Linked DNA regions of Homo sapiens: all the other regions are reported to be linked to region 1. The links are microRNA targets in miRTarBase. Many come from high-throughput screens and were not tested one by one. Region 1 holds a microRNA gene; each other region holds the end of a gene's coding sequence.

What was found. Region 1 holds the annotated microRNA hsa-miR-562 (AAAGUAGCUGUACCAUUUGC, at 1,659-1,678, shown strand). A microRNA usually pairs through its seed, bases 2 to 8, with sites in the 3' UTR of a target mRNA and lowers its output. Matches are read on the target gene's strand: a 7mer-m8 pairs with bases 2 to 8, a 7mer-A1 pairs with bases 2 to 7 and ends in A, and an 8mer does both.
Region 2: the mRNA of DCP1A is a reported target of hsa-miR-562. Seed matches in the 3' UTR shown: 8mer at 3,428-3,435.
Region 3: the mRNA of ANGEL1 is a reported target of hsa-miR-562. Seed matches in the 3' UTR shown: 7mer-m8 at 3,324-3,330.
Region 4: the mRNA of SPIC is a reported target of hsa-miR-562. The part of its 3' UTR that is shown has no 7-base or 8-base seed match.
Region 5: miRTarBase lists SEC14L6 as a target of hsa-miR-562. Seed matches in the 3' UTR shown: 7mer-m8 at 3,234-3,240 and 7mer-m8 at 2,213-2,219.

What each region holds. Positions count from the first base shown.
Region 1 is chr2:232,171,055-232,175,203 of GRCh38, forward strand. It overlaps MIR562 (microRNA 562), which reads left to right and starts at 1,599; the gene lies at 1,599-1,693. All of the region lies in intron 9 of DIS3L2 (DIS3 like 3'-5' exoribonuclease 2), which reads left to right.
Region 2 is chr3:53,284,096-53,288,095 of GRCh38, reverse strand. It overlaps DCP1A (decapping mRNA 1A), which reads left to right. Exons shown (of 10, transcript NM_018403.7): 9 at 1-31; 10 at 436-4,000. The coding sequence ends at 516. All of the region lies in intron 1 of LOC107986087 (a long non-coding RNA gene), which reads right to left. Among named protein-coding and RNA genes, the nearest start is that of TKT, 30 kb to the right of the region's middle.
Region 3 is chr14:76,785,469-76,789,617 of GRCh38, reverse strand. It overlaps ANGEL1 (angel homolog 1), which reads left to right. Exons shown (of 10, transcript NM_015305.4): 10 at 230-3,609. The coding sequence ends at 390. VASH1-AS1 (VASH1 antisense RNA 1) reads left to right here and starts at 2,894. Exons shown (of 2, transcript NR_104184.1): 1 at 2,894-3,533.
Region 4 is chr12:101,486,373-101,490,521 of GRCh38, forward strand. SPIC (Spi-C transcription factor) reads left to right here. Exons shown (of 6, transcript NM_152323.3): 6 at 1-625. The coding sequence ends at 399. Among named protein-coding and RNA genes, the nearest start is that of SPIC, 13 kb to the left of the region's middle.
Region 5 is chr22:30,521,268-30,525,416 of GRCh38, forward strand. SEC14L6 (SEC14 like lipid binding 6) reads right to left here. Exons shown (of 12, transcript NM_001193336.4): 11 at 4,083-4,149; 12 at 1,532-3,842. The coding sequence ends at 3,730. Among named protein-coding and RNA genes, the nearest start is that of SEC14L4, 18 kb to the left of the region's middle.

The DNA of each region.
Region 1 (4,149 bases):
AGGAGCGCTGGAAGTTAGTCCTAGTTCTCCCCAGGGCCTAGCTAGGTGATTTTAGGCAAACCAGTTAAATCTGGGGAAGTGGAGAGCCGTGAGCAATTTTATCTTTTGTGAAATGGATTTTTGACCAGATTAGGATTTTTCAAAACATGTTACTAGGTCATGAATAGGTGTCATGCAGAAAAAGGATCTGTGGGCAAGTATTTTTGGAAAACAGTGTGTTAATAGATTTCTTAGAGTTTCTTCTCATGGATTATCTTGTGGAACTAGTATTCCTTAGAATACATTTTGCAACTTTCTGAACTAGGTATTTCAAACCCCTCTAGCTCTAACAGAGCATGACTCTGTATTTGAAATGTCTTTTCTGAGTTATTTAGAGCTGTCTCATTCTTGGATTTGAAAGAAAATGGTATCCCATCAGTGATTGTCTGCCGCATTTATCTGACAAATAACTATCAACTGTGCCCCACCATGGACCACCCAGGAAAGATAATTACGCAGGAAATTCAAGGGTTGTGCTTTAAATCTCAGTTCTTCGATGGCCAAGGGAACCCCTTCTTCCCTTAGCTGGAGGGAAGCAAGATTAAATTGTTTGGCATCAAATGGGGAAGCTGTCATTGTCATTTGAAACTCCTGGCAGTAGTATTCCTTTCATGTAAATCCCAACTCACTGTGAAATTACAAGAAATGCATAGATAGTAACCAGGATGAATGGGCCCTAAAGTAGATACACAACTGGACCTTCTTAATTGTAAGTATTTAGTACTTCATCAGCCCATAAAATTCATGTTGATAAATAGCACCACTCTCAGAAAAGACAAATACTCAAAGATCAATAGATTTTTGTCTGAACCAGGAGGAAAAATGCCTACTGGCAAAAGACAATATTTGAATTTATTCCCTAGAAATATTTTTATAGCACTGTAGAAATATGAGTGCATGGGAAAGATAATTTCTACATCTTCTAAATAAAATCTGTTTGGAAATTATACTATAATGATATTTAAAAATTTCATTTTGTGGTATAGATGGTCTAAGATTTGGAATAAACTGGAGTATAGAGATAACTAAATGTCAGGGTGGCAAAGTCTGTTTTTTATATTGAGATATTCAAATACCACAAAATTAATCATTTTAAATTCAGTGGTTTCTCGTATATTGGTAGATTTGTTGAACCATCACCACTATCTAATTCCAGAACATTTTTGTCACCCCAAAAATCAATTCCATTAGCAGTCACTCCTCATTCCCTCTCCCCCCAGCTTCTCACAACTACTCATCAGTTTTCAGTCTCTGTGGATTTCCCTGTTCTGAACATTTCATATAAATGGAGTCATACAGCAAGTTGCCTTTGGTAGCTGACGTGGTTTACTTGACATAATGTTTTCAAGGTTCATCCATGTTGTTAAATATATCAGAACGTAATTCCATTTTATAGCTGAATAATATTCTGTTGTATGGATATTTCACATTTTGTTTATTCATTAGTTGATGGACATTTGGGTTGATTCCCCAGCTTGACTATTATGAATAATGCTGCTATGAATATTTGTGTACAGGTTTTGGTGTGGACATTCAGTTATTTTGGGTATACACCTAGGAGTGAAATTGCTAGGTCATATGGTCAGTCTACTTTTAGAGTAATTGTGAAACTGTTTTTCAAAGTAGCTGTACCATTTGCACTCCCTGTGGCAATGTATGAGGGTCTCAGTTGCTCCATATCCTAACACTTGTTATCTGTATTTGTGATTATAGCCATCATTGTAGGTGTGGGGTAGTATCTCATTGTGGTTTTGATTTGCATTTCTGTCATGACTAATGAGACTGAATGTATTTTGATGTGCTTATTGGTCATTTGTATATTTTCTTTGAAGAAAAATCTACTCAGATAGTATCTATTCAGATCCTTTGCCATTTTTAAAATGGATTGCCTTTCTATTGTTGAGCTATAAGTGTAGTTTCTGTATTCCAAACACTGGTCATTTATCAGATATATGATTTGCAGATATTTTCTCCTACTTGTGGGCTGGCTATCTTGCACTTTCTTGATGGTGTTCTTAGAAGCACAAAGTTTCAAAATTTGATGAAGACCCGTTTAGTCTGTTTTTTCTTTGGTTGCTTGTGTTTTTGGTGTCATATCTATAAAAACCATTGGCGAAGATCACAAAGAGTTAGACATATGTTTTCTTTTTGTTTGTTTGTTTTGAGATGGCGTCTCTGTTATCCAGGCTGGAGTGCAGTAGTGCGAGCTCAGCTGCAACCTCTGCCTCCCTGGTTCAAGCGATTCTCCTGCCTCAGCCTCCCAAGTAGCTGGGAGTGCAGGCACCCATCACCACACCCTGCCAATTTTTTTGTGTTTTTATAGAGATGGGGTTTTGCTATGCTGGGCAGGCTGGTCTCCAACTCCTGACCTCAAGTGATCCACCAGCCTCAGCCTCCCAAAGTGCTGGGATCATAGGCATGAGCCACCGTGCCTGGCCAACATAAGTTTTCTTCTATGAACTTTATACTGTTAGTTGTTATATTTATGATCCATTTTTAGTTAATCTTTGTAAATGGTGTGAGGTATGGGTCAAACTTCATTTTTTTGCTTGTGGATAACCAGTTGTTTCAGCACCATAAGAAAAACTTGTTGACAAGATGATTCTTTCTTCATGAAATTGTCTTGGCATTTCTTGTCAAAAATTATTTGACCATAAATGTATTGGTTTATTTCTGGACTCTCAATTCTGTTCCATTGATCTGTATATTTGTCTTTATGCCAGTACCACACTGTCTAAATTATTGTAACTTTGTAGTAAGTTTTGAAATTGAGAAGTGTGATTCTTCCAACTTTGCTTTTTTTTCTTTCAGATTTTTCTACTATTCTGGGTTCTTTGCATTGCCATATATATTTTAGGATCAGCTTGTCAATTTCAGGAGGCACTCAGGATTTTCATAAGAATTGCTCTGAGTCTGTAGATCAGTTTGGGGAGCATTTCCATCTTAACACTGTTAAGTCTTCCAACCTATGAACATGGGATGTCTGTCCATTAATTAGGTCTTTAATTTCTTTCAATGATGTTTTGTAGTTTTCAGTATACAAGGCTTCTTTGTTAAATTTAATCCTACATATTTATTCTTTTTGATGCTGTTGTAAATGAAATTGTTTTCTTAATTTCATTTCCAAATTATTTATTGCTAATGTTTAGAAATACATTTTATATTTATATATATATCTGGTATCCTGCAACCTTACAAAAATCATTTGTTGGCCGGGCATGGTGGCTCATGCCTGTAATCTCAGCACTTTGGGAGGCCAAGGCTGGTGGATCACTTGAGATCAGGAGTTTGAGACCAGCCTGGGTAACATAGTGAAACCCCGTCTCTATTAAAAATACAAAAATTAGCCAGGCTTGGTGGCAGGTGCCTGTAATCCCAGCTACTCAGGAGGCTGAGGCAGGAGAATCGCTTGAACCTGGGAGGTGGAGGCAGCAGTGAGCAGAGATCACGCCACTGCACTCCAGCCAGGGTAACAGAGTGAGACTCCACCTCAAAAAAAAAAAAAAAAAAAAAAAATTGTTAGCTCTGTTTTTCGTGGATACCATGGAATTTCCTGTATTTAGAAGTTCATGTCATCTGCAAATAGGGAAGTTTTACCTCTTCCTTTCTAATTTAGATGCCTTTTATTTCCTTTTGTTATCCAGTTACTCAAGCTAGGACCTTCTGTACAGTGTTGAATAGAATTAATGGAAGTGTGCCTCTCTTGTCCTGATCTTGAGGAAGGAAAGCATTCAGTCATTCAGTTTTTTTTTTGTTTTTTTGTTTTGAGACAGCGTCTTGCTCTGTTGCCAGGCTGGAGTGCAGTGGTACAGTCACAACTCACAATTCCAGGCTCAAGTGATCCTCCCAGCTCAGCCTCTTACGTAGCTGGGACAACAGGGCGTGCCACCAAACCCAGCTAATTTTTGTATTTTTTGTGGAGATAGGGTTTTGCTGTGTTGCCCGGGCTGCTCTTGAACTCTTAGGCTCAAGTGATCTGCCCGCCCCGGCCTCCCAAAGTGCTGGGATTACAGATATGAGCTAAGCACTCAGCCCAGTCTTTCAATATTAATTGTAATGTAAGCTTTGGGGGTTTTGTAGATGCTCTCTATCAGCTGAAAGCTTTTCCTT
Region 2 (4,000 bases), not on the chromosome of region 1:
GCTCCAGGATACATTAATACATCTAATAAAGGTATGTAGGATACCAATTTTATCTTTGATTTTTCATTATTTAATGAAAGAAATTTTATAAATTCCTCTTACAGAATCAGTTCATAAAGTAAATTCAAAAGACTAGCTGGAGGCCAGGCAAAGTGGCTCACACCTGTAATCCCAGCACTATGGGAGGCCAAGGCAGGCAAAAAAAAAACAAAAACAGACTAGCTGGGAGTACTGTTTCTCTTTTTTTAAGCATACAGTCCTGGTGGAGAAATATCTGCATGAACTCAAAATATTAATCATGATTGTCTCTGGGTGGTGGGATTATCAGTTATACAAATCATTTATACAATTTTTTTCCTAAGCTGTTACCAAGGAAGTAAAATCTGATGAGGTAAATGTGGCATTCGTATCCTTAACCTTTACCATCTCTTCTAGAATGATTCCAGCTTCCTCAGTACACTTCATGAAGTCTACTTGCAGGTTCTGACCAAGAACAAAGACAACCACAACCTATGACTGGAGCAGAATAAGTCTAAAGGCAGAGCCCCAGCCTCAGAGACAAATAGGCTTCATCATGGAAACTTCTGAGCAGAACATTGAGTTTGAGAATCCTGAAATTGAGCCTATGAGAAAGAGACTCATTTCTTAAGAATGTTTTCCAAGTGACATTCTCAGTGATAATGGAGGTTTCACTGTGAAGCATCACCAGCAGATCCTTGTTTTGACAAAAAAAAAAAAAAAAAAAAAAAAAAAGAGAGCGATCATTGTGTTAAGTTATGTGGGTGTTTTCATCAGCTAGGAGCAAGGCTGTGGAATAAGGAGTCAGATTCTCAGCTTGCTTTCACTTTCAAGGACTTACAGAGGAGTAGTCACCAGCCTCACAGCAGAAGTTCAGCCCGGCCCCCACCGCTTCCCCCAGCCTACCCCATAGAAACGGGCTTTGGGCTGACAAGTCAAGTTTTGAACAGAGTAGAAGGCAGCTCTGCAAAGTAGCTTCTAGTTTTTAGGACCAGAATTTAAGCCGGCAAATTAGGAATTATTTCCTCAAGTGAAGTATATTTTATATGAATGCCCCATTTGGGCCTTAAAAGTTGTGAAATTTCTTAATAGCATTTTGTTTTTAAGTGCCCCAGTCCTGCCCTGCAGCAGGCCCCCAGTGCAGCATTACCATTTGAATAGGGCACTGTCAGGCTCTGGTGGTGTGGACACAGGCATGTCATACCTTTGAAGGAAAGGCTGGGGCTGGGAATGCCCACATCCTATCAAATCTTCATTTTAGGTTAAACTCTCCATTGGTTCTGAAAATGCTAAGTTTGTGTGTGAAGCACAGCCTTATTTTCCTTTTCTGTCATTGTTGATTGTTTTCCTTAACACTTTGACAAAAGGACCAGTGGACCAATCTGACAAAGCCATTCTGGTTCCTTTCCTTGAGTGTACTGAGAATAGTTTTAAAGCTATGCAGAAAAGGGAGCTGTTATTCACACTGCCCTTATTTTGTTGTAGAATTATGGAGTTAAAAGAAAATGTGATTCCGAACTCTACCAATGTATTCCTAGGCTGTGAGTACTTTCCCGGCCCAAAGTGTGAAAATATGTAAAGAAGCTTTGTTATGCTGCTATTGATCTGCCATGATTTCTATTTATTCTTTTATGGCATGTAATGGTGTTTAGTAATATTTTAATGTAGATTTTGATTTATTTCAGCAATAGTAATTTTAAGATATTCTTTGAATGAAAGTGTCTTCGTTTCTATGATACAGGTCATTTTGTAGTATTTAACCAATTAAGATGCACTGCTTACTTTTCTGAGCACTATTTAATGATGGGGTAAAAACCCAATTGGCTCAACCAGCTAGCATAAGGATTAGCTGTGAATAATGCTGACAGATATGATGGTTCCTTAGGAACAATCATTTAAGCTTTAATGGTAACTCAATCATAAGTCCATAGATTATTTTTTTCTAGCTAAAATTTTAGAAAATTACTTGTGAATTACATACTTGTTTTAGTTTGGTCTTAGTTTTTAGCATAAAGAATGATTGGCTTTTGTTGATCTAAACATGCTTCCTGGACAGGGTTTCTGCTTCTCATTTTAGTGTCTTCTATTGCTGTCTACCTAATTATGTGTGAATTGTGCAGAATTCAGGGAAGCTTATAAGTTTTCATGCTCAATTGTGAATAGTTTGTTTTCACAGATAGTATGTAAATTAAGCAACCAAAAATGAATTCCTTATGCATCATCTGGGAACGAGAAAGCTATAGTGGGATACAGAGTGTTGCTGACACCGGGAGATGGTGTCCAGGGAGCCACGTGACTTCCATAAAGTGGACGCACCAGTAGGTGTGATTGCACCTCAAGTGTAGTCTCAGTGGGCTTCGGTGAACAGACGAATCAAGGGATTCTTGAATCGAAATTATGCTTTTGAGTATGTAATATTATGAGAGAGTTAAGAGAGAATATCCTAAAGAGAGTCTGTGATCATACTAATTTTCACCTTTAATGCTAGGAATGGATATGATAGACAGTAAAGAGCATCTATGATAAGGCTTCCTTAGTGTGAAAGTAAACTTAAGTGCCCAAGTCATGGAGACTTGAAAAGGGTAAACCTGTTTCACCTCCCAAATTTATATATTCAAAGTATTTACTTAAAATTCAGAAGCCAGAAGTTCATGTCATGATTACCAGGAAGTTCAGGCCAGAATGAATCCCTAGAGAAGCCAGGCCAAGCCTGGATAATTGCAGCTGGATGACCCTGGCCCGAAAGTCACAGTTCAGTTGCCTTATTCCTAGTTCAGGCTTACTATCTAGAACCTCATGCTAGCTTAGGTTGCATGTTTACATTGCTGCAGTGTCTTTACTGGAAGCTTAGTTGGATCGAAATGGACACCGAGATGGAGATGCTTCTGGCTAGATTTCGCAGAACCCCAGGAGACCTGCATTTAGACCACTCTGTCCATTTGTGTGCCCACCCCCACCCCCAGGGTCTAAGTGTAGACTCCAAGAGGAGCAGCCCAGAGCTTGGAGGAGAGGTGTGTCTGGGGCACCACTGGTGGGTGGTGCTGCTCTTCTTTTTGTTGTAGTTAATGCGGTGTCTTTTAATGGACTCTCAGGCCTCCCAGACAGCCTTGTTCCTTTAAGGCAGAAGCTCTTCTTCATTGTGTACCTCCTGGGATTCATGAGGTGTGAGATTTGGCCTGCTTGACTTTGAATTCAAGTTTTTCAAGTGACTCTCAGTGTCAGAAGAAGCATTTCATGCTGTCCACATGTGGTATGTCCACAGCTCACCTTCAAAGGCTTAGATGTAGCCATCACAGAGAGTGGTATTTTATTAAGAACCCAAGTCCCAGCCTGACCAACATGGTGAAACCCCATCTCTACTAAAAATACAAAAATTAGCCGGGCGTGGTGGCACGCGCCTATACTCCCAGCTACTTAGGAGGCTGAGGCAGGAGAATCACTTGAACCCGGGAGGCAGAGGTTGCAGTGAGCCAAGATCACACCACTGCACTCTAGCCTGGGCGACAGTGAGACTCCACCTCAAAAAAAAAAAAAAAAAAAAAAAAAAAAAAGTCACGCTGGGCCCCTCTCTACAGGGGGACACACAGGCTTAGTTTAGTATATGTCTAACCAGATTTTGCATGTCAAGCATTTGTCCTTTTCCTGGCTTATGTTTTCTTGTAGAAATTATATAAACCCTATCAAATCCACTACTAGGTAAATTTTTAAACCATGCAGCTTTATTACTCTCCTCCCCCAAAGAATGTAGTTTGAAATTTTCTCATTTCCATAGTAGAGGCCCTAACTGCCATTGTATTACTAATAATGCAACATGAAATTGAAGGTGCCTAACTGCTCAAAAAACAAAATCAGCCATCATACTGTAACTCTGAGAGGAATGAGAGGTGGCACAGGCACGAGTGGGCTCAGCCCGTGTGAGTGAGGAGAACTGAGGAATCCTAGGGTGCGCATCCTGCATCCTGGCTGCACGTTTGCTGCAGAG
Region 3 (4,149 bases), not on the chromosome of region 1:
CTTGCCCCAGTTCCCCGGAACTCACCTGTCTTTATTCGTTGATGATATTATGGAGTATCTCTGAGAAAATGGGGCCTCCTCAGCCAGATGCTGCAAGAGGAGGTGAGGGGCAGTGGGCAGCCAAGGGGATGCAGCCTGCAGAAGGCGTTCCCAAAGGACTCTGCCACTGCCTGCCCATGCAGTGTGGCTGCGGCTGCTTTTACCCATTGGCTTCTGCTTTGTGCCCCAGATCACAGGCTGTATCGAGATGGAACTCTCAAGCTCCTGGGTCGTCTCTCCCTTCTCTCTGAAGAGATACTCTGGGCTGCCAATGGCTTACCCAACCCCTTCTGCTCTTCAGACCACCTCTGCCTGCTAGCCAGCTTCGGGATGGAAGTCACCGCCCCATGACAGGGCTCCCAGGGGAAGAGAGCTTCTCTTCCAGAAGAGCTCACTGGATCAGAGACTGTGGAAAAATCCCATGCATCTAGAAACTTAGATCCAAGAAACTTACATCCCCTCCCTTCCCCCTCCTCGTTCCCTTTTTCCCACGGTTAGACTTTCTCCAGGCCTGGCTGCGTTCTCTGCCTGTGGTCCTTGCCCCACCCCAGCCTCTTCCTAATCCTGTGCCACACACTCAGTGGCCCTGGGAGAGGCAGAAGGGGGGCTCCCCCTTCCTTCCATGTATCCAGCGCTCCCCCTTGATTTTTAATTACCAGGGTTATGGGAGTTCTTGATTTCATTGGTTATTTGCTTTCAGGCCGTTTCTTGATGTACCTTCTGACCTGACCTTTTCCCTGCCTTCAGGACTTCTGGGCCCAGCCCTCTTGCCAGGCATGCATATGTGAGATATGCATATCATGTATGTGTCCTCTTGGGGTGAGACTTCTGCACAGCCATGCCTGCCTCTGACCAGTCCACTTTTCATGTTGGGGCTGTAGGCCTGGGGCAGGTTCAGAGTCTACCCAAGTACCTATGTATGAGCAGGCAGCAGCAGGGCATGGCCCCATCTCTCCTTTTAGCCTCTGTGTTTCATTAGGCATTCATCCTGCCAACCAGGGCAGGCCCGGCGTCTGGGCTCTGGGAACAAATGGGGCCCACATCCTGGAGTGGCAAATTTTGGGGGATGCGCTACCTGTCCCAGCTGGCCCTGTGCCTCCAACCCAGAGCTCCCCACAGACCTGGTGTAATTTCACAAGGGCCATCCCTTTCCCCAGGCTTCCCTGAGGGAGGCGGAAGTTTGAACCCTTATGTGGGGTTCATTGGGCTAGGGTAGTGGTATGAGGTTTAAAACTATTTAAGGATTAGGAGGAGAAAGAGTCTTCAGGAAACTCTTGTTTCACTGGACTCTGCAGCCTGCAGAACTGGGGCAAGGGTAGGAGTTCCAGTAGGGGAAGGAGCAGGTAGACTCTTCAGCTGCCTCAGCTGGGACTGAAGACCTAAGCTGATTCTCTTTCCTCTCCACTCCTAAGAAGCAATTTTCTGTTCCTCTCCTTCCACCACTTTTTACTTTCTGCTATCTCCCATCTCCCGCTTCCCTTCCATTTCCTTTCTAGAAAACCCTGGTATTTAGCTCAGGCCAAACTGCCTCAGCAGAAAGGTGGCCTTGGACAAAACTGGTCCAAGAATTTGAAGTGGCAGTACTTGCGGATTGGCTCTGTCCAGCAAGGCCTCAGCTGCTTGTTGCGTCTGCTTTCCCTCCCCTAACAGAAGGGTACCCTGGCTTATTCAGGGGACTCCTTAGTCCACACTGTGTCACCTGCATGCCTTAATCTTTCATTGCTGGGGTGTGGCCTTGGGAGATCCTGGGCCAGCCCCTCCACACATCTCCCTAAGTCAGAGTGGCTGCTGGCCCTGGTAGATTTGACTTGCTCTTGCCTCACTCGACCTCCAAAGTGGGACTGAAGACAGTGGTCAAGAGACTTGAGTTCGGGACAGTAAGCCAGGGGTTAAGGTTCTTTCCTTTTTTTGAAAGCCAAAGACCCAGTTTGCATTGTGCTGCTGCATTCATGGTTAGAAGCTTTCCATGCCTAGGTTCTAGGGAATTTATTTTTCTATGTGTATATATTTTCAAACTTTGTTTCCTGGGTACTGGGCATGTGCCTGTCTGAGCCCCAGGTCTGTCTACACCCCACCATTCATTCTGTCTGTCTGTTCCCTGGACACTGCCTAAAAGGGTCTCAAGACAGTGCCCTGTGGGTTCCTAGGACTAGGGCCCATCACTGTTCTCTTCTGCTGGGAAATGCAGCTTTAAAATGGCTAACCACAGCAGAGGGCAGATGCTTGATAGATTATCTTTTCCTTGCTTTCTTGTTTCTGTTTTGAAAGTGAAATGGGGTTTTAAATTGTTATTTAAACTCTTTTTCCAAATAAAGGTTTACCTTTTTTCCCCCCAATGTTGTTCATTTTATTAGGATCCTGAAGGGATTAGGTCCTTGAGAGAGGGCCTGAAGAATGAGGTGGGCAGAGGAAGAGACTAAGGAGCTTTTGATCTTGGGGTGGGGTCTCAAGACATGAATCTAGATTGAGAAATGTGTTGTAAGATCTCCCTCTATTAGCTGAGGTAAATTCCCACTGCTGTGAGGCCTGGGAGGAACAGGGCTTGAGTGAAGCCTCCTGCCTTGACACTGCTGGGGTACAGCTTTCTTCTGTCCTTCCCAAGTGAGAGAATGATTCTTTGGACTGCTTTTCATTCTTCCTCCATCTGCTCCCCCCATGCCTCCTCCTAGTATCTTCTGCACTTCAGGAGGGTCTGTGCAAAGTGGGATAAGATGTGTGTTTTCCTGATTAAAGCTATGGCAGCTGCATGAGACATGATGCGGGTGGCACATGCCTCTTGCTGAGCATCTATTTCTGATCTCTTTTGCATTCTGGAGCCAGGGCTGAGCAGTGGGCCATCTGTCGCTGGAAAAATGTCTCTTCCTTCCTAGGCCTACCTCTGTTGGTGCTTTTGTCTTCCAACCTCCCTATGTAGTAAGACCAGCCAAGCCCACATGCCCACTGGGAGCCCTGAAACCAGATCTGGTTTTCTGTCTTACCTGAACAGGTTCCCAGAACCCACACCAGGCCTCTGAATCAGTCTCTGAGAATCTGATTGATTTAAAGCCACTTGGTTGCTTCCATTGCACTACCTGGGTTGCGATCCCCTCAATTGATTTAGTAAAAAGAAAACTTAGCGGCCGGGTGCGGTGGCTCACACCTGTAATCCCAGCACTTTGGGAGGCTGAGGCGGGTGGATCACCTGAGGTCGAGAGTTCCAGACCAGCCTGACCAACATGAAGAAATCCCGTCTCTACTAAAAATACAAAATTAGCCGGGCGTGATGGCGCATGCCTGTAATCCCAGCTACTTGGAGGCTGAGGCAGGAGAATTGCTTGAACCTGGGAAGCGGAGGTTGTGGTGAGCCGAGATCATGCCATTGCACTCCAGCCTGGACAACAAGAGTGAAACTCCATCTCAAAAAAAAAAAAAGAAAAGAAAAGAAAAGAAAGAAAACTCAGCTAGGAATTAGAAACATCATTTGTCCTCTTGGCCTGTTCAGCTGGTGACTGTAGGTAAGTTACTTAACCTCTCTGTATTTCAGTTCACATTCCTTGGTGAAATAGAAATTAAAGTTAATAATCACTTCTACTTGTGAAGAATTTTCAGATCTGAAATTGCTTTGTTTGGGCTTTGGCAAGAAAAAGGTGCTAAGAATTCCAGAGAATTATTGGTAGGAGTTGGGAGTAGATCGTTACCCCAGCCAGGCTGGACAGTTGGGCCCATTGGCTAGGAAGTATTTGAAAGCCCTAAGCTTTGAGGTATATCCCCAAGAACCTCTTCCTGGCAGGGAGGGTTCCTCCTAGTTGCCTCAGTCAGTTAGCATCTCCACAGCACTTCTGTTAAGTTTGCACAGTACTTCCACGTCAGCTAGCAAAGACAGTGGCACTGTGTGGTGGCAGTTTAGGTGGTGTTCAGATTCTACCTTTACACCTGAGGAAACAGAAATCCCAGAGATAGAATTTGAGAATCTCCTTTGGTTTATTTCTTACCACCCCAAGTTTCTCACAAGCCTTTCCAGGATCAGGCAAGACAGGTTATCTTGGAAGGCAGAGGCTGGTGGTGGGGGCCTGGGGCTGGGGGAGCTCAGAGGCAGCTTTTAACTGGAGACCAAGAAGGGAAATGGCCAGT
Region 4 (4,149 bases), not on the chromosome of region 1:
CTTCACGAATCCCTGTATAATCCGGAGATGGCATCTTGTATTCAGTGGGTAGATAAAACCAAAGGCATCTTTCAGTTTGTATCAAAAAACAAAGAAAAACTTGCCGAGCTTTGGGGGAAAAGAAAAGGCAACAGGAAGACCATGACTTACCAGAAAATGGCCAGGGCACTCAGAAATTACGGAAGAAGTGGGGAAATTACCAAAATCCGGAGGAAGCTGACTTACCAGTTCAGTGAGGCCATTCTCCAAAGACTCTCTCCATCCTATTTCCTGGGGAAAGAGATCTTCTATTCACAGTGTGTTCAACCTGATCAAGAATATCTCAGTTTAAATAACTGGAATGCAAATTATAATTATACATATGCCAATTACCATGAGCTAAATCACCATGATTGCTAAATATACTTTCATATTTCATGGTTTACTGGCATCGGAAATCTCTACAAGTTTTAATGATTTCTCCCTCCCTCTCTTTTTTTCCTCCTCTGAAGAAATTTAGGATTTTTCTCTTAAAGCAAATACTAAAGAGGAAAAAAAATTAACTTTATTGTTGCTTTTATCAAAGAGTATGTAATCTATACTAACTTGTTGGGAAATTCTGCCAATGAACAACTTTTTTATAATACTTTGTGAAGATTCAATGAACAACTTTATTGTTTCAAATGATCAAGCCCATTTGAAAGTATAGACTAAGGTCCTTGCTCTGCTCTTACTGTTCTCTCTCTATTAAAATTTTTATTTTTTTATTTTATTATTTTTTAAAGATGTCTCAGCCAAGATAATTTTTTATTTTTATGGATTTAGGAGTACAAGTGCAGTTTTGTTGCTTTGATATATTGCATAGTGGTGAAATATGCATCCTCATCACCAGAATAGTGAACACTGTACCCAATAGGTAGGATTTCATCCCTCATCCCCCTGGCATCCTCCCACCTTTCAGAGCCTCCAGTGTCCATTACTCCATTCTGTATGACCATTGCTAAGCTCCCAACTATACCCATTTTATTTTATTTTAAAAATTGTTTTCTTTTGCTGCATACTTCAATGGATGCAAAGTCTTTTTCTTTTTTCTTTTTTTCTTTTCTTTTCACAGACGATGACTTCTTTTTTTGTTTGTTTGTTTGTTTTTGGCTGCTAACTCCCAAGCACAACACTGACAGTGACTTATATTTTTAATTTTTTTTTTTTTTTTTTTTTTTGAGACGGAGTCTCGCTCTGTCGCCCAGGCTGGAGTGCTGTGGCGCAATCTCGGCTCAGTGCAAGCTCCGCCTCCTGGGTTCATGCCATTCTCCTGCCTCAGCCTCCCGAGTAGCTGGGAGTACAGGTGCCCGCCACCACGCCCGGCTGATTTTTTTGTATTTTTAGTAGAGACGGGGTTTCACTGTGTTAACCAGGATGGTCTCGATCTCCTGACCTCATGATCCGCCCGCCTCGGCCTCCCAAAGTGCTGGGATTACAGGCGTGAGTCACCGCGCCCGGCTATTTTTAATTTTTTTAAGAGGCAAAGCCTACCTCTGAAGCTCTCTCTTTTTTTCTTTTCACACTTCAATAAGCTGGTTTAAATTCTTGCTATTCTCTATGCAACCACCTTCTTCTAGATTAACAGTGCCAGTACAGATGATTTGATTTATATATTGATTTCAGCATTTTCTTGTCATGTACTCAGGTGAGAAAATTCACACTTTTATATGATGGCTTTACAAAAAAATTTTGTAAATGACTGCATATGATAAAGCCTTTGTGCCAAAATGGGTTCATAGCTTTAAAAACATCACTAGAAATGTCTGTTCAGCTTCCTTACACATTTTTTTATTTCCTTCTCTTTTGATCTTACCCATTTTTACAACTTAAAGCTTTTTTTTTTTTTTTTTTTTTGAGACAGGGTCTCACTCTGTCACCTATGCTCAGGTGCAGTGACACAAACATGGATGAAGCCCAGCTAATTTTTTTTTTTTTTTTTTGTAGAGACTGTTTTGCCATGTTGCCCAGGCTGGTCTCTAACTCCTGGGCTCAGGTGATCTGCCCACCTTGGCCTTCAGAAGTGCTAGGATTACAGGTGTGAGCCACCGAGCTGGCCCCAAAACTTTTTTAATGTTTAAGTTTTACCACTGTACTAAGGAGGAGTTACCCATTTTTTTAATTGCCTTTTTTCTTCCTTCTTATTAGGGAGGGGTAAGGAAGAAGACTTTGTCAGCAGAAAGCAGGTCTTAATTGCTTTTTTGTTTGTTTGTTTTGTTGCTATTGAGTTGTTTGAGTTCCTTATATGTATTGGATATTAAACCCTTGTCAGATGTCTGGCTTGCAAATGTTTTCTCCCATTCCATAGGCTGTCTCTTTACTCTGGTGATTATTTCCTTTGCTGTGCAGAAGCTTTTTAGTTTGTTTGTTTTAGCTACACGTCATGAACTAAGAAGCTTTTTAGTTTGATGTGATACCATTTGTCTATATTTAATTTTGTTGTCCATGCTTTCGGGATCAAATCCAAAATATCACTACCCACACCAATGTCTTATATGTTTCCCCTATGTTTTCTTTCTTTCTTTTCTTTCTTTCTCTCTCTCTCTTTCTTTCTTTCTTCTTGTAATCATTAGAGAAATGCAAATTAAAACCACAATAAGATATAATCTCTCACCTGTCACAACGTCTTAAAATGTTTATTATTATGTTTTTAATCATCCTGTACTTTATTTCAAAACAATGTTTTCAAATGAAGACACAAAAGATAAGTGTTGGTAAGGATGTAGAGCAAAGGAAACACTTGTACACTGTTGGTGGAAATGTAAATTGGTGTAGCCATTATGGAAAATGGTATGGAAATTCCACCCCCCCCCGAAAAAAAACTAAAAATAGAATTATATGATCTAGAAATCCCACTTCAGTGTATTAATGCAAAAGACTCGAAATCAGTTTGTGGAAGGGATATCTGCATTCCTATGTTCATTGCAACACTACGCACAATAGCCAAGTTAGGGAATCAATCTCTGTCTATCAACAGATGAATGGATTAAAAAAATGTATTGCATATACATGATGGAATACTATTCAGCCTTTAAAAAGAAGGACATTCTGGCCAGGTGCAATGGCTCACACCTGTAATTCCAACACTTTAGGAGATCAAGGCAGGCAGATCACTTGAAGTCAGGAGTTTGAAACCAGCCTGGCCAACATGGTGAAACCCCATCTCTACTAAAAATACAACAATTAGCTGGGTGTGATGATGCATGCCTGTAATCTCAGCTACTTGGGAGGCTGAGGCAGGAGAATGGCTTGAACCTTGGAGGCAGAGGTTTCAGTGAGCTGAGATGGCACTACTGCACTCCAGCCTGGGCGACAGAGTGAGACTCCATCTCAAAAAAAAAAAGGAAGGAAATCCTGAAATTTGTGACAACATTGATGAAATTGGAGAACATTATGCTAAGTGAAATAAGTCAGGGCTAGAAAGACAAATACCACATGTTCTCATTTATATGTGGAGTTAAAACAATGAACTTATAGAAGTGGAGAGTAGAATTGTGGTGACAGAAGCTGGAGGAGGGGGAGATGGGGAGGTGATGAGCAAAGGGTATACAATTTCAAACAGGGAGAATATGTTTTCTCTTTTTGTGCATTCTATTGCACAGCATGGTGAATATAGTTAATAGTAGAGTGCTGTACATTTCAAATTGCTAAGTAAACTTCAAATGTTCTTACCTCAAAGAAAGTTAAGTATTTGAGGTGATGGGTATGTTAACTAGCTTGACTGAATTATTTCATATGGCGTTCACAAATCATAACATCATTTTGTACCCCATAAATTTTTTCCCCACACAACTCTCTCTTTACAGAACCCATAAATCTATACAATTATAAATAGTCAATTTACAATAAAAAAGAAAAAAACTTTAGTGGGTATCTTGAGTCTGTATTTTCTCTGCACTTCCACTCATGATCTGTAACCATGTGGCATTCAACAGATGACAGCCTAAGGAAAATGCCACTTTCCTTAATGATAATAAAAATCTAAAGCTTACACCTCCTACAAATCCCCTTCGTGGTTGACGTTTTTCTTAGGTAGATCCAGGTGCTAATATTTCTTGCTATCCTGCCACGAAGCCATAGGGAGGTGCTGTTGCCCTGGTATCTATCTGGCACATGGTCTCTTCCCTTGAA
Region 5 (4,149 bases), not on the chromosome of region 1:
GGGCAGGCATAAGGGAGTCTCTGAGGTCGACATGCAAGAGACCAGGGGCAGGGCTGGCCCACACTGCAGGTGGAGCTGGCAGCCAGATGGGAGGAGATGCAGGGAGGGCATTAGGCCCAGAGTGCACCTGGAGATCAGAACTGGGGGCACCTAACAGGGGCCTGTAGGGCAGCCAGGACAAGCACAGGAAGATGGGACCAAGATGCATGGAGAAAGCTTGTGGGACAGTGCAGCGTGGCTCCCTGGTGGGCTCCAACACTAGTTATCAGCTCCCAATAGCAGCTGCCTTCCCCTGGAGGCTTGCTGGTGCCTGCGGAATCTCCTTTATCCTATAGCAACCACTCTATGAGGCAGACGCTATCTCACCCATTTGCCAATGAGGAGATGGAGGCTCAGAGAGGTCTGATCACTGGCCAAAGCCAGGCAGTGAGTGCTAGAAACAGCACTTGAACTCGAGCCTGTCTCATCTCACACACCATGCCTGCCTTTTCTTTTTCTTTCTCTTTCTTTTTCTTTCTTTTCTTTCTTTCTTCCTTTCCTCCCTTCCTTCTTTCTTTCCTTCTTTCTCTTTTCTTTCCTTTTTCTTTCTTTCCTTCCTTCTTTTTCTTTTCCTTTCTTTCTCTCTTTCTTTCTCTCTCTCTCTCCCTCCCTCTCCTCCTCCTCCTTCTTTTTCTTCCTCTTCTCCTCCTCCTCCTTCTTCTTCCTTTTCTTTCCCTTCCTTCTTTCCTTTCCTTCCTTCTTCCTTTCTCCCCTTCTTCCCCTTCCCCTTTCCTTTCCTTTTTCTTTCTTTTTACAGAGACAGAGAACTCCTGGGCTCAAGTGATCCTCCCACCTCAACCTCCCAGAGAGCTGAAATTACAGGTGTGAGCCACTATGCCCAGCCGACCATGCCTTTTTCATGTTCATGAAAAGATGCTCAGCACTACTAGTCATTGAAGCAATGTAAATTAAAACCACATTGGCCGGGCATGGTGGCTCATGCCTGTAATCCCAGCACTTTGGGAGGCTGAGGTGGGTGGATCCCCTGAGGTCAGGAGTTCAAGCTCAGCCTGGCCAACATGGTGAAACCCTGTCTCTATTAAAAATACAAAAATTAGCCGGTGTGGTGGTGTGCACCTGTAATCCCAGCTACTTGGGAGGCTGAGGCAGGAGAATTGTTTGAACCCGGGAGGTGGAGGTTACAGTGAGCCAAGATCATGCCATTGCACTCTAGCCTGGGCAACAAGAGTGAAACTCCATCTCAAAAAAATAAAATAAAATAAATAAATAAATAAATAAAAACCACATTAACCACAGGCCTATTCGAATAGTTAATATCAGGATAACTAACAGCACCAGGCAAGGATGGGAAGCAACTGGGATGCTTACATGCTGCTTTTGGGAAAATGGTGCAACTTCTGTGCAAAACACGTTGTCCGTTTCCCGTGACATTAAATGTACCCTTCCCATAGGTCCCAGCAGGAATTCTCCTCCTGGGTATTGATACCCTGGAGAAGTGAAAATTTAGGATCACAAAAAACCTGTACACGAATGCTTACAACAGCTTTATTCATAATCGCCCCCAAACTGGAAGCGACTCAACCAGCCTTTAACAGGGGAAGGGATAAACACAGTGTGGTCCATCCATACAGTGGTATATTACTCAGCAACGAAAAGCAACTAAATATTAACACATGCAACAAAGTGAATGAATCTCAGAGGCATTATGCTGACTAAAGAAAGCCAGAATCAAAAGGCTAAATATTGCACGATTCCATTTATATGACACTCTGGAAAAAATCAAAAGTGTAGGGATGAAGAACAGATCAGTGGCTGTCAGGGGAGGGGCTGAGGGAGAGCAAGGGCTGCTGAATGCCCGTGTTTCCATTTTTGGACAGGATTCCTGTAAAGTAGGCAATTAGGGAAGAACTTTGGCTGTCATTTGGGGCTGCCACATTGAGAACAAGCTGGGACAACATGTGAGTGACAGGATCCTGGGCAGAATCTCAGCTGACAGCATAGCCAGACCCAAAGAGGCCTGATCGCAGGACAGCACTCTAGTAGGACTGTGGGCTGACACCGACCTAGTGTCCCACTGTGAGGCTCAGTCTGAATTTTTTTTTTTTAAGACAGGGTCTTGCTCTGTTTCCCAGGCTGGAGTGCAGTGGTGCAATCTCAACTCACTGCAACCTCCGCCTCCTGGGTTCCACAGATTCTCCCACCTCAGCCTCCCAAGTAGCTGGGACTGCAGGCACTCGCCGCCACCACACCCAACTAATTTGTGTATGTTTCGTAGAGACGGGGTTTCGCCATGTTGTCCAGGCTGGTCTCAAACTCCTGGCCTCGAGCAATCCACATGCCTCAGCCTCCCAAAGTGCTGGGATTACAGGTGTGAGCCACTGCACCTGGCCAGTTTGAAATCTTAATCAGGAGATTGGATGAAGATCCAGAGCTCAAGCAGATTCTCAGATGCTATAACAGTGGGAGGGAACGTGTATGTGGAAGACAGAATAGAGAGTTTAAAATTCTTTCTAGATGGGAAACTGTGAGGTTGGATTTCCATTCAGAGCAGCATTGCACAACTGCTTGTTAGGGAACTATTTGAACCATGTCTTTTATTTTCTGCATGCTTTAACATCTGAGGTTTTGCTAATCCTGGAGGGCCTGCCTCTCCTAGAGATACAGCAACTTGCCCACAAATGCACTTTTCGAATGCAAACCAACTGATATAAACCATATTCCAACTACCTCCTTTATCAGATTCTCACACTCCAGGCCACTATCCACCTGCTGTAATCACCCCAGGGCAAGATACCAGACAGCTAGTGACAGCCCTTATTCCACGGAGCCTGCTGAAATTATTCAAACTAGCAAATCTCAAGCCTGCTTACCCTGCCTCACCAGTTCCTTCCTGCAGAAACCATCATAAAAGTAAAGTTGCTTTGTCCAGAGTTTTTCTGTCTCATGTGCGTCATGTTCGGCCCTGATGCCTCCCTGGGGACCCCTCCTCTTCCCCCTATGGCACAGCGGCCCCTCCTCTTGGGAACTGTGAGTAATAAACTATCTTTTCAATGGTAATTATTTCCTGATCTGTCAGCTATACTATATTTCAAATTTCCTATTAATACTATTTTATTTTATTTTTTTGAGACAGAGTCTCACTCTGTCACCCAGACTGGAGTGCAGTGGCATGATTTCGGCTCACTGCAACCTCTGCCTACCAAGTTCAGGCGACTCTCCTGCCTCAGCCTCCCAAGTAGCTGGAATTACAAGCAGGCACCATCACACCTGGCTAATTTTTGTATTTTTAGTTGAGATGAGGGTTTCACCATGTTGGCCAGGCTGGTCTCGAACTCCTGACCTCAAATGATCTGCCCGCCTTGGCTTCCCAAAGTGCTGGGATTACAGGTATGAGCCACCATGCCTGGCCTAATACTATATTTTAGAAGAGTAACTTATTTCTTGGTATTGGTTGATAGAAAAAAGCCTGGGGTTTTTGCTGAGCTTGAGGTCACAGCAGGTCATAGTGGGGATGGAGTGTCTGTGTTGCTTTGCTGTGACCATCGGGCCACCACTAGGACACTGTCCCAGCCGTTCCTGAGGAGTGGGCCAGCTGTGATGCATAGGCTGTGACCTGCTGTTGTAGAATCCCTGTTCCTGAGAGGTTGAACAGGGTCTGGCCAGGGAAGGCTGTGAACTCATTGTGGATTCAGAGATCAAAGAGGAGGGTGTGGGGACCATGAGGTTCACCTAGAATTTCTCCATCTTCTCCATGAAGGTTTGGTCTGGGAGCAGTACCTCCACGGTGTAGCTGATGCGTTTAGAATGAACCAGGCTGTAGGTGTTGTAAAACCTCAGGACATCTGCAGTGAGGGACAGACATTCAGACAAGATGCCCCACCTGGGACTCTGACTTCCATGGTGGTAAATCTCTGCGTGGGTACCCAGACCAGGGAACCATTGCCACAATTGAGAGCCCAGAGCCAGCCTCACACTGTGCCCACCAGAACCAAGGGCCCTCACCTGGTAGGACCTGGATGCACATTGTAGCACCCTCCCCCTAGCCCCCAGCTCCAGGTAGAGCCATCCCTGCCAACTCTTACAGCTGCCGGCCTGGAGGCAGGTGAGAATCCCATCTTCAGGCACCATGTGGGCATTGTAGCGCTGGCT